2 separate regions of the Homo sapiens genome follow, and region 2 is linked to region 1. The links come from fine-mapping of genetic effects on gene expression. Tissue or cell type: whole blood. Region 1 holds a variant in brackets; the other region holds the start of a gene. All regions are shown on one strand. Distances are from middle to middle.

Region 1 (2,681 bases):
CGAGGACAGCGGACAGGGTGCTGCTCACGCTCTGTGGCCCTGAGGCCAAGGTCGCATGTTTCCCACGACCCAGAGGGTGGCAGCCTTTCTCACCCCCACTGGCTGGTCCAGGGCCTCCCCTAGGACAGTGGGCTCCAGGAAGCAAATAAAGGGCTGCATCTGGGTCTGAAGGAGGCGATGGGTGTTCTGCCCTCCTGTTTTCCACCAAACCACAACAGTTACCTGGCTGTCACCCTCGTTCATTTTGCCACTCAAGTGTCCGGCAATGCTGAATACAGCCAGTGTGCTCCTCCCATCAGGCTTTGGCCTTCCTGCCCTCACCCTGCCCCACCAAGGGACTGGTGGCTTCCCTTCTGCCCTGGCTGCCAGTCCTCAGAAAACCAAGGCCCCCTCCATATCCAGGGGCCACTCTTCACCAGGGAGCCAAATGTAGCTGTCACCATCCCTCCAGACGCCTTTAGAGGGAGCCAGGCTCCACTTCTGCCCATGTCCAACTTAAAAACTACTAGGAGCCACGTGGGAACCATGCTGCCAGACACCAGAAACTTAAACAGTCCAGCTCAGGCAACTGTTTGGTCATGCCAACCCCTCCCCTCCCCATACCCTGAGTCACAGGTCTTGGTCACAGTGTCTGGGACCGACCTCAGATTTTATACAAAAAGCTGGGGACATAGTCAAACCTGAGCATGGGGTGGCTGGTCCCTGGAGATTCCTGCATGTAGTGCAGCTTCAGCAGCTCAGCCAGGTACTGGACCACCCTAACATCCTCATTCACCAGACCCAGGGTCAGCTTTAGGAAGCTCATCTGGCGGCTGGCTACCAGCTCCTCTGTCTCCTTGTCGTGGGTAGGCAGGTGCAGGTGGTGGCAGAAGGTGTAGAGGAAGGCCTTGGAGCAGAGCTGGGTGAGCATGCTCTGGACATGCAGGTAGTAGGTGCTGCCCCGCTTGATCTGTGTGCGGTGGTCTGCCAGGCGGGGCACCAGGGTGCCTCTGTAAAGGGGGCAGCGCAGGGTTTTGTTGTCAAGGTCCAGGATGCTCGTGTAGCGGCTGTAGCGGCTCAGGGCATGGAGGGTACCGGCACCGGCAGGGGAGGCCACTCTGAAACAGACAGGCCAAGGTCAGGAGGAAGGGCAAGGGCCGGGAAAGTGGAGGCAGAAGCTTGGGAGGTGAGGCCTCCTGTCCCCAGGCCAGCATCCACCTAGCCAGCATGCACTGGCTCTTCCTGGAAGACAAATCTGATCATTGTAATCTTCAAAGGGCTCCTCACCACTCTTATGACCAAGGTCAAAAACACGCTGGGTGGCCCACAAAGCCCTTTGTGGTCCGATTCCTGCTGAATGGACTCTTTTTTGGAGCCATGGCAAGCTTTCAGTGGGGCCTTAGAATTACAAACCTCTTTGTTCAGGCCAGGTGCAATGGCTCACACCTGTAATCCCAGCACTTTGGGAGGCCGAGGCAGGCGCATCGTGAGGTCAGGAGATCGAGACCATCCTGGCTAACACGGTGAAACCCTGTCTCTACTAAAAATACAAAAAATTAGCCGGGTGTGGTGGCAGGTG[C/T]CTGTAGTCCCAGCTACTTGGGCGGCTGAGGCAGGAGAATGCTGTGAACCCAGGAGGCAGAGCTTGCAGTGAGCCAAAATCGTGCCACTGCACTCTAGCCTGGGCAACAGAGCGAGACTCTGTCTTAAAAAACAAAACAAACAAAAAAACCTCTTCTTTCTGCCTGAAATAACCTCTCTCTCTTGTACTTAGCTTAATTTAAAGCATATTCAGCCTTCCCTGATCCTCTCCTGCTTTCCTGCTGTGACCTTGGCCAAATTCATTAACCTCTCTGAGCCTCACCTATAAGATGGAGATAACATTCCTACTGTTTTTATTTATTTAGAGACAGGGTCTTGCTCTGTTGCGCAGGCTGGAGTGCAGTAGCACGATCATGACTCACTGCAGCCTTCATCTCCTGGGCTCAAGGAATCCTCCCACCTTGGCCTCCCAAGTATTTGGTACTATAGGCGTATGCCACCACACCCAGATAATTTTTTGTAGAGATGGAAGTTTGCTATGTTTCCCAGGCTGGTCTTGAACTGCTGAGCTCAAGTGATCCTCCTGCCTTGGCCTCCCAAAGATTTGGGATTACAGGCATGAGCCACTGTACAGGCCAGTTACTACTATTACATCCCTCATGGGGTCGCTGTGGAGACAAAATGAGTTGTGCTTAGGACAATGCTGGCCCTCGGTAGGCGCTGCTGTCATCGCCATCACTACTTTTAGCCTAGCACTGACCAGTGGGGTGACTGCTGTTTGTTCATTGGCTTCTCCCCACTGGACAAGCAGCTCCAAGATTCTAGGGTCCCAGAACTGCACCTGATCTGGTCTCATGCCCCCAATGCCTGGCACATCAGAGCCAGGAAAAGCCAGTGTTCACTCAGTGAGGGGAGCGGTTCCTTAAACACCCTCCTGAAGCAGCTTCCCCAGAGCAGCAGGGACTGCCCTGTAGGGCCCAGACATTTAGGGTTTACGTCAGACAGGTATGGTGTAAGAAGGACTGACGGTGACTTGGGACCAAGGTACTCTCACAGTACTTTTTCCTTCCTGGGTTTTATCTTCTTGTATATTTAACAATCATTTACAGAGCATCTATAACATCCCAACATTGACCTGGGAGCTAACACTGTAATGAAGAATG
Region 2 (2,681 bases), 41 kb before region 1:
TCGCGCCACTGCACTCCAGCCTGGGCGACAGAGCAAGACTCTGTCTCAAAAAAAAAAAAAAGTTTTTTTTGTATTTTTTGTTTGTTTGTTTTTCGAGATGATGAGGGTCTCACTCTGTTGCCCAGGCTGGAGTACAGAGGCAAGATCATTGCTTACTGCAACCTCTGCCTCCCAGGCTCAAGTGATCCTCCCATTCAGCCCCCCAAGTAGCTGGGACTACAGGCGACTGCCACCACACCCAGCTAATTTTAAAATTATTTGTAGAGACAAGGTTTCACCATTTTGCCCAGGCTGGTCTTGAACTCCTAGGCTCAAGCCATCTGCCTCGGCCTCCCAAAGTGCTGGAATTACAGGGGTGAGCCACTGCGCCCGGTTTTTATCATTCTTATAATAATTATTGTTATCATTTGACAAATAAAAAAATTTATGACGCAGCCTCAGGTGGTCCTGACATGTGGCCCCGGTTTTTATCATTCTTAACAATAGGTAATGTTCATTGAGTCCTTATTGTGTGTCAGTATTTTATTTATCTTATTTTATTCTTCTTGAGACGTTGTCTCGCTCCGTCCCCCAGGCTGGAGTGCAGTGGCGCGATCTCGACTCACTGCAACCTCCGCCTCCTGGGAGGCAACATAGTTAGACCCCCATCTCTACTTCAACCTGGGGGACAGAGTGAGACCCTGTCTCAAAAAAATAAAAATAAAAAATAACAAAAATAATAATAATAAAGTGTCTGCTCTTGGATTATACACCTACAGAGTAATAATGTTGCAGTTTGGACGCACATTTGTCCTACTTTAAATGACCACCCTGCAAACTAAAAGTAGTACCATGAACAAAATTCACTCATAATCCCACGGCCCAAGCGACAGGCTTAAGTGAGGAAGGCCCTGTGTAGTCTTCCTGGAAATCTTGGTCCACACACCAGCCCTGCAGCCAAAGCGGGTCAGTTCTGCAGGTCCCTGCCCCAGGTGCGCAGCTGCACTACGCGGCCTCCGGCCCGCCCCGGAGAAACAGGCCCTGCCCGCCGCTGCGCCGCAGCCAATAGCGCGGGTGCGTTTGGTGGCGGCCCATGCTTGGCTGCGCTCTCTGATTGGGCGCCTCCGGGGGCGGGGCCAAGCCCAAGCCTGGCGCGCAGAGTGCACCTTCCTGAGCTCGAGCGGTCCAGCGCCAAGTTCGGGGTTTGGGGTTGGAGCGGCTGGTCACGTGGCTGGCCCGCGGCGGTGCGCGGGGCGTTGGGTCAGCGGGTCTGGGACTGGTGGCACCGGCGGCGGCGTAGGACGGAGGCGTCGCTAGGTACGTGCGCGGGCCGTGTTCCGGTAGGTGGGCGGCTTCGGGTCCGAGGGCCGCGGCGTCCCAGAGCCCGGGGGGTGCTTCGGCGTCCTCGCTGTCCCCCGCCGTACCCCACCCTCTGCAGCCGCAATGACGGGAGGGGAGCGCTTGGGTCGCGCCTGGGCTGGGGATCGGGCGGCGGCCAGCCGCAGCGCCCCAGTTCCAGGCACATTCGGTATGATGGGGTGGCGGCCCGTGGCCTTTGGCAAGAATGCGAAGGCTTATCGGGGATGTGAGTAGTAGCTCTCCACTGAACACTTTTCTCGTTGAGCATTTTCGATTTAAACAATCCTAGCTCCTTCACAACAAAGCTGCAAGTCAAGTGCTACTGTTTCCCCCATTTTACAGGTGAGGAAGGTGGTGGGGCCCTGAGAAAGGAGGCAACTTAAATGGCAGAGCCCGGAATAGAACCCGGGTTCTCAAAGCCTGCGCCCCTAAAGGCTGCGCGCAGGGTCGCTCCACTTTTGGCCCGTGCCACCAGATCCCTGTGGGGAATGAGCTCTTCCTGTTGCCCGCAATCTGCCACCCCCTGTTCTAGGAGACAAATGTTGCACTGTGAAGTTCTTGGCCCGGTGCCTTGGCTTCGAGATTCCGGGAGTTAAGTGACCCTTGGTCCAGCTGAGGTCAGCACAGATGCGGGCCTTCAATCGGGCAGTTACCCAGAGAATAGACTGGAAACACCAGTTTAGGTTCTTGCAGAAATAACATTGTAGGCCGGGCGCGGTGGCTCATGCCTGTAATCCCAGCATTTTGGGAGGCCGAGGTGGGCGGATCACTTGAGGTTAGTAGTTGGAGACCAGCCTGGCCAACATGGTGAAACCCCGTCTGTACTAAAAATACAAAAAAACCTGGCTGCCCATGGTGGCACACACCTATAATCCCAGCTACTCGGAAGGCTGAGGCAGGAGAATCGCTTGAACCCGGGAGGTGGAGGTTGCAGTGAGCGGAGATCACGCCACTGCACTCCAGCCTGAGTGACAGAGTGAGACTCTATCTCAAAAGAAAGAAAGAGAGAGAAAGAAAAGAAAAAAAAGAAAAGAAATAACGTAAATTTATTACTTGGGGGAACTTGGAACGGAAGTGGGTAATTGTGTTTTTATTTAGTGCAATGTCCTGGGACAAGGCCTTGGAACTGAAGAGAAACCATTGTTCAGATTCTGGCTCTTATATGGCTTTAGACAAGTTAGCTCCCTGGGCCTCAATTTCCTCTTCTGTAAAGAAGAGAACACAAAATGTGTGTGAGATAGAAGATGTGCAACAAGTTAGTTCCCTGAGCAGATCCTTGGCTGGATCCTCTTATGTGACAGAGGCCCAGGTAAGATTTGGAGGCATGGGGAGGCTGGTGACCT

Evidence for each region. PIP is the estimated chance that this variant, and not a neighbour inherited with it, causes the effect.
Region 2: SHMT1 starts here. The variant in region 1 is fine-mapped to the expression of SHMT1 in whole blood (TOPMed, PIP above 0.99).

What each region holds. Positions count from the first base shown.
Region 1 is chr17:18,321,033-18,323,713 of GRCh38, reverse strand. SMCR8 (SMCR8-C9orf72 complex subunit) reads right to left here. Exons shown (of 2, transcript NM_144775.3): 2 at 1-1,097. The coding sequence ends at 644. Among named protein-coding and RNA genes, the nearest start is that of SMCR8, 7.1 kb to the right of the region's middle. RefSeq lists enhancers at 520-1,019, 1,020-1,521 and a silencer at 2,033-2,225. The variant C/T (reference allele first, on the strand shown) is at 1,559.
Region 2 is chr17:18,361,987-18,364,667 of GRCh38, reverse strand. It overlaps SHMT1 (serine hydroxymethyltransferase 1), which reads left to right and starts at 1,118. Exons shown (of 12, transcript NM_004169.5): 1 at 1,118-1,296. RefSeq lists a silencer at 1,024-1,493.